2 separate regions of the Homo sapiens genome follow, and region 1 is linked to region 2. A link means that fine-mapping ties the variant in region 2 to the expression of a gene that starts in the linked region. Tissue or cell type: whole blood. Region 2 holds a variant in brackets; the other region holds the start of a gene. All regions are shown on one strand. Distances are from middle to middle.

The links. PIP is the estimated chance that this variant, and not a neighbour inherited with it, causes the effect. A credible set is the group of variants that fine-mapping cannot tell apart.
Region 1: it holds the start of CRKL, and the variant in region 2 is the best candidate, but not a certain one, in a credible set for the expression of CRKL in whole blood (TOPMed, PIP 0.81).

The regions. Positions count from the first base shown.
Region 1 is chr22:20,915,900-20,918,399 of GRCh38, reverse strand. It overlaps CRKL (CRK like proto-oncogene, adaptor protein), which reads right to left and starts at 993. Exons shown (of 3, transcript NM_005207.4): 1 at 155-993. The coding sequence starts at 465. RefSeq lists an enhancer at 277-336 and a silencer at 627-1,076.
Region 2 is chr22:20,823,508-20,826,007 of GRCh38, reverse strand. It overlaps PI4KA (phosphatidylinositol 4-kinase alpha), which reads left to right. Exons shown (of 55, transcript NM_058004.4): 4 at 1,594-1,682. Among named protein-coding and RNA genes, the nearest start is that of PI4KA, 34 kb to the left of the region's middle. The variant G/A (reference allele first, on the strand shown) is at 1,070.

The DNA.
Region 1 (2,500 bases), 92 kb before region 2:
ACACTAGCTTTCTGTTAGGAAGGCCTTCTGGAAAATAATTTGGTTCAGAATGCGGGGAATATGGGTTCAAGCGCGCCCCACCCCCCTATACAAGCACTCTTCGACAGACCCGGTTCTCGACCTTCCTCCGCGGTCGGGGAGGGCTCTCGCGTACCTGGGCGCAGGCTCGATGAGGGTGGTGGTGTCCAGGTAGTGGATCTTGTAAAACTCCAGCAGGGCCGGCAAATGGTCAAATTCCTGGTCCCCGATCTTAAAACGGCGGTTGGGCAGCGAGTTGATGATGTAGTGGGAGACCCGCGAGTTCTCGGACACCGACAGCACATAGTCCCCAGGGCAGGTGGAAGAATCGCGGACGAGGAACATACCGTGGCGCTGGCCCTGGAGCCGGGTCTGCGCCTCCTGGCGAGACACCGGCCCCATATACCAGGCGGAGCGGTCCGAGGAGTCGAACCTGGCGGAGGACATGGTGTTGGACCGGGGACTCTGCGGCGGTAGGGGCGGCGGCTGTCCTCGCCTGCTCTGCACGCCTTAGCCCGGCAGACGGCTTTGGGGCCGAGGAAGGGCCTCTCGCACACCTCGAGGAGCGCTCAGAGGGCTGGGCCAGCACTTTCCTCTCGGCTCCGGGCCCGCAGCATCCTCCGACGCCGCCCGCCTGCTCCGGGGCCGCCACACGGAGAGAGCCGCCCGGGAATGCACGGCAGAGCCGGGGGGTCGGGGCAGGCAAACCCGAGCCGCAGCGGAGGCCACCCCGGGGTTCTCGGGCTGCTCGGCGTCCCAGGGGTGCCTCCAGTGACTCCCGGCCTGGAACGCGCCGGCGCCGCAGCTCGACGGGTCTTCACCGACCCCCGCCGTCACACGAGGCACCGAACTCGAAGGAGCGTCGCGCCTCCGGGGTGCTTTTGCCCAGCTTGTTCCCAATAGCCACAGCAACAAAATGGCGGACGCGGGAGAAGCGGCAGCCACCTCCCCCTCCGCTCAGCGCGCTCCGTCTGCGCACGCGCTGGGCCCCGGCTCCCGGCGGCCGCCGGGGCCCTCCCGTTACGTCACACAGCGCAGCCAATCAGGAGCACCGTCGCGACGATCAGGGTGGGCGCTGGTCGCGCCCGCTCCCGCGTTCCAGGAGGAGGCTGAAGAGGCGCCGGCGGTAGGCACTCTCTTCCTGGGCCGCTGCGCGCCGCTGGGGGCGCTGCGGCTGCCGGGTCTCCCAGCGCTGGCAGGAAAACAGCTGGAGCCGAGAGGGAACCGCGTTTCGAAAACCTGCTTCTGGGAACAAAGCGTAACGTGCAGGCTGAATCGCGGGCCAGGGAGGCGTGGCACTGAGGCGACCTGGCCAGCCTAGGGGCCTGAGGGAGGTCAAGGACTGACAGGTCCCGATGGGCCGAGGTGGCCCAGTAAAAGGATGAGCCCAGGGGCAGATGTGACCACCAGATAGGTGACTGACTGAATGACTCAGTCCCCAGGTGGCCTGATAGGCTAAGGAAGCCCTAGTGGCTACGTGACCCGCTAAATGGAGTGAGAGGAGAGAGAAGGTGAGGGTTAGATTGACTCAATTAAGTGGTCAAGGAAGTCCACAAGTGGGTAACCTGGCTATCATGGGCTCTGAACTGCTGAAAGTAAAATACAAATGCCTCTCGGGCGTGGCCCCGAGGCTTCCCCTGCCCCGGATTATGCCTGCTTCTGCCTATTTATTAATCCCTATTTGTTTTTGTTTGTTTTCTTTCTTTCTTTCTTTCTTTCTTTCTTTCTTTCTTTCTTTCTTTCTTTTCTTTTTTCTTTTCTTTTCTTTCTCTCTCTCTCTCTCTTCCTTTCCTTTCCCTTTCCCTTTCCTTTCCCTTTCCCTTTCCTTTCCTTCTTTCGACGGAGTCTCGCTCTGTCACCAGGTTGGAGTGCAGGGGCGCGATCTCGGCTCACTGCAACCTCCGCCTCCCGGGTTCAAGCGATTCTCCTGCCTCAGCCTCCCGAGTAGCTGGGATTACAGCTGTCCGCCGCCATGCCCTGCTAATTTTTGTATTTTTAGTAGAAACGGGGTTTCACCATGTTGGCCAGGCTGGTCTCAAACTCCTGACCTCAGGTGATCTGCCTGCCTCAGCTTCCCAAAGTGCTAGGATTACAGGCGTGAGCCACCGTGCCCAGCCTGTTTGTTTTATTTTGTTTGTTTTTGAGACAGGTTCTCCTTCTGTCACCCAGGCTGGAGTGCAGTGGAACTATCATGGCTCACTGCAGCCTTGATTTCCCCATCTCAAGGGATCCTCCCACCTCAGCCTTCCGAGTAGTTGGGACTACAGGCTCGCGCTGCCATGCCCAGCTAATTTTTTTGATTTTTTTTTTTTTTTTTTTTTTTTTGAGACGGAGTCTCGCTCTGTCGCCCAGGCTGGAGTGCAGTGGCGGGATCTCGGCTCACTGCAAGCTCCGCCTCCCGGGTTCACGCCATTCTCCTGCCTCAGCCTCCCAAGTAGCTGGGACTACAGGCGCCCGCCACTACGCCCGGCTAATTTTTTGT
Region 2 (2,500 bases):
AATTAGCACAGCAACAGGAAACCAAACGCTGCATGTTCTCACTTGTAAGTGGGAGCTAAACTTCGAGTACATATGAACACAGAAGGGAACAGCAGACACTGGGGCCTACTTAAGAGTGGAGAATAGGAGGAAGGTGAGGATGGGAAAACTACTTTCTGGGTACTATGCTTATTACGGGGATGATGAAATAATCTGTACACCAAACCCCCGTAACATGCAGTTTACCTGTATAACAAAACTGCGTATGTACCCCTGAACCTGAAATAAAAATTAAAAAACATTCTGTTTGTGCCAGTATTCCTCTTAACCTTTGGGTTTTCATCATTTCTGGTAACATGCCTAAAACTGACAGATCCCAAATTATGCATGTACCTGCAATTTGTTAGGATTTTGTTTGTTTTTTGTTTTTTTGAGACAGTCTCACTCTGTCTGCACTCCAAGCTGTAGTGCAGTGGCCTGACCTCGGTTCACTGCAACCTCCACCTCCTGGGTTCAAGCAATTCTCGTGCCTCAGCCTCCCAAGTACCTGGGATTACAGGCATGCATCACCATGCCTGGCTAATTTTTGTATTTTCGGTAGAGATAGTATTTTGCCATGTTGGCTGGGCTGGTCTTGAACTCCTGGCCTCAAGTGATCTGCCTGCTTTGGCCTCCTAAAGTGCTAGGACTATAGGCATGAGCCACTGCACCCAGTCTGTCCTGCAATTTGATGGACTACAAATTAAATAGAGCATCATTACTAAAAGGTCAAATTTTAGGCCGGGCATGGGCACATTCAAGTTTGAGAACAGCCTAGAGCTGCACTTTAAAATTTTAAGTGCTGGAGTAGAAATGTAAGTCTTCTGTCATGTACTATGAATATAGCTATTAAATAGTGGATACTCTTTTTTCCTTGATTCAACATTCAATATTCAAAATTGATTTTTTTTTTTTTTTTTGAGATGGCGTCTCATTCTGTCACCCAGGCTGGAGTACAGTGGTGCGATCTCGGCTCACTGGAACCTCCACTTCCTGGCTTCGAGCTATTCTCCTGTCTCAGCCTCCCAAGTGGCTGGGATTACAGGTGTGC[G/A]CCACCACACCCAGCTAATTTTTGTATTTTTAGTAGAGACGGGGTTTCACCATGTTGGCCAGGCTGGTCTTGAACTCGACCTCAGGTGATCCGTCTGCCTTGGCCCCCCAAAAGTGCTGGGATTACAGACTTGAGCCACTTCGCCCAGCCGAGTGTTTTGTGTGTGTGTGTGTGTGTGTGTGTGTGTGTGTGTGTGTGTGTGTGTGATTTATCACATTTACTTAGGGAATAAAAAATTGAATCTGTCATGTTGAGAGGCTTTGTTATCTCACACTAGCTATTGGCTCAGGAAACATTTAAGTTTATTGAACCAAAACATTTACTTAAAGGAAAGGTAAGGGTGTTTCTCAGCAAACTCATTGGGCCCATAGCTGTTCTTTTGAGACTCGTCTCAAGGAGGGCAGCTGCTGTAAACTGGTCCCTTGGCAGGTCATGGTGAGAGGGAACATATTGAATTGGATGGCCAGAGGTGTGACCCAGTATCTGGTTCCTGGTTATCTGATTTATGTTTTTACATCTTCCAGGTGCCCTCCCGGTTGCAGAGAGCTTCAGCTTCTGCTTGGTAACTCTGCTGTCTGATGTGGCCTATAGGGATCCTTCACTTAGGGATGAGGTAAGCATGTGTTGGTTGATTTGGTATGCATTTCTATTAGATTGAATAGAGTCCCAAAGTGATGAAAAGATTTTAAAAACGTGAAATGTGATTGAATTGTTTGTTGATATTTATCTATTTCATCCTGTTGACAGCAGACCTAAGACATGCTTAGGTCTTTCACTACTCTTTAGGATCTCGAGTCTTATCTTATTAAACTTTTCTTTTTTTTTTTTTCTTTTTTCTAATGAAGGGCAGGGGCTGCAGAGACATGAGCAGCACTATCCCTTTCAGCTTTTCAGAAAGTCCTTTAAGGTAGGCGGCAGAAAAAGGCAGAGGCAGCTCATTTTTCTTGCTCTTTGTTGGGGATTGAAGTCATTCATAGAAGATCATTTTCTTTTCTTTTTTTGAGGCAGTCTTGCTCTGTCATCCAGGCTGGAGTGCAGTGGTGCAATCTTGGCTCACTGCAACCTCTGCCGTCCACCTCAAGCCAGCCTCCCTCCTAAGACTCCCAAGTAGCTGAGACTATAGGCGTGCACCATCATGCCAGCTAATTTGTTTTGTATTTTTTGTAGAGACAAGGTTTCGCCATGTTGCCCAGGCTGGTCTTGAACTCCGGGCCTCAAGTGATCCTTCTGCCTCGACCTCCCAGAGTGCTGGGATTATAGGTGTGAGCCACTGTGCCCAGCTAGAAGAGAATCTTCTAGGTAGCTGAAGCTTTTATCTTTAAGGGCACAGACTTTCTTTAGATTTTGTTAATTTTGATAGAAATGTTACAAACATGTATTTCATACTTTCCTGTTCTTTAAACAAAGAATGTAATCATACAACTTTTTCTT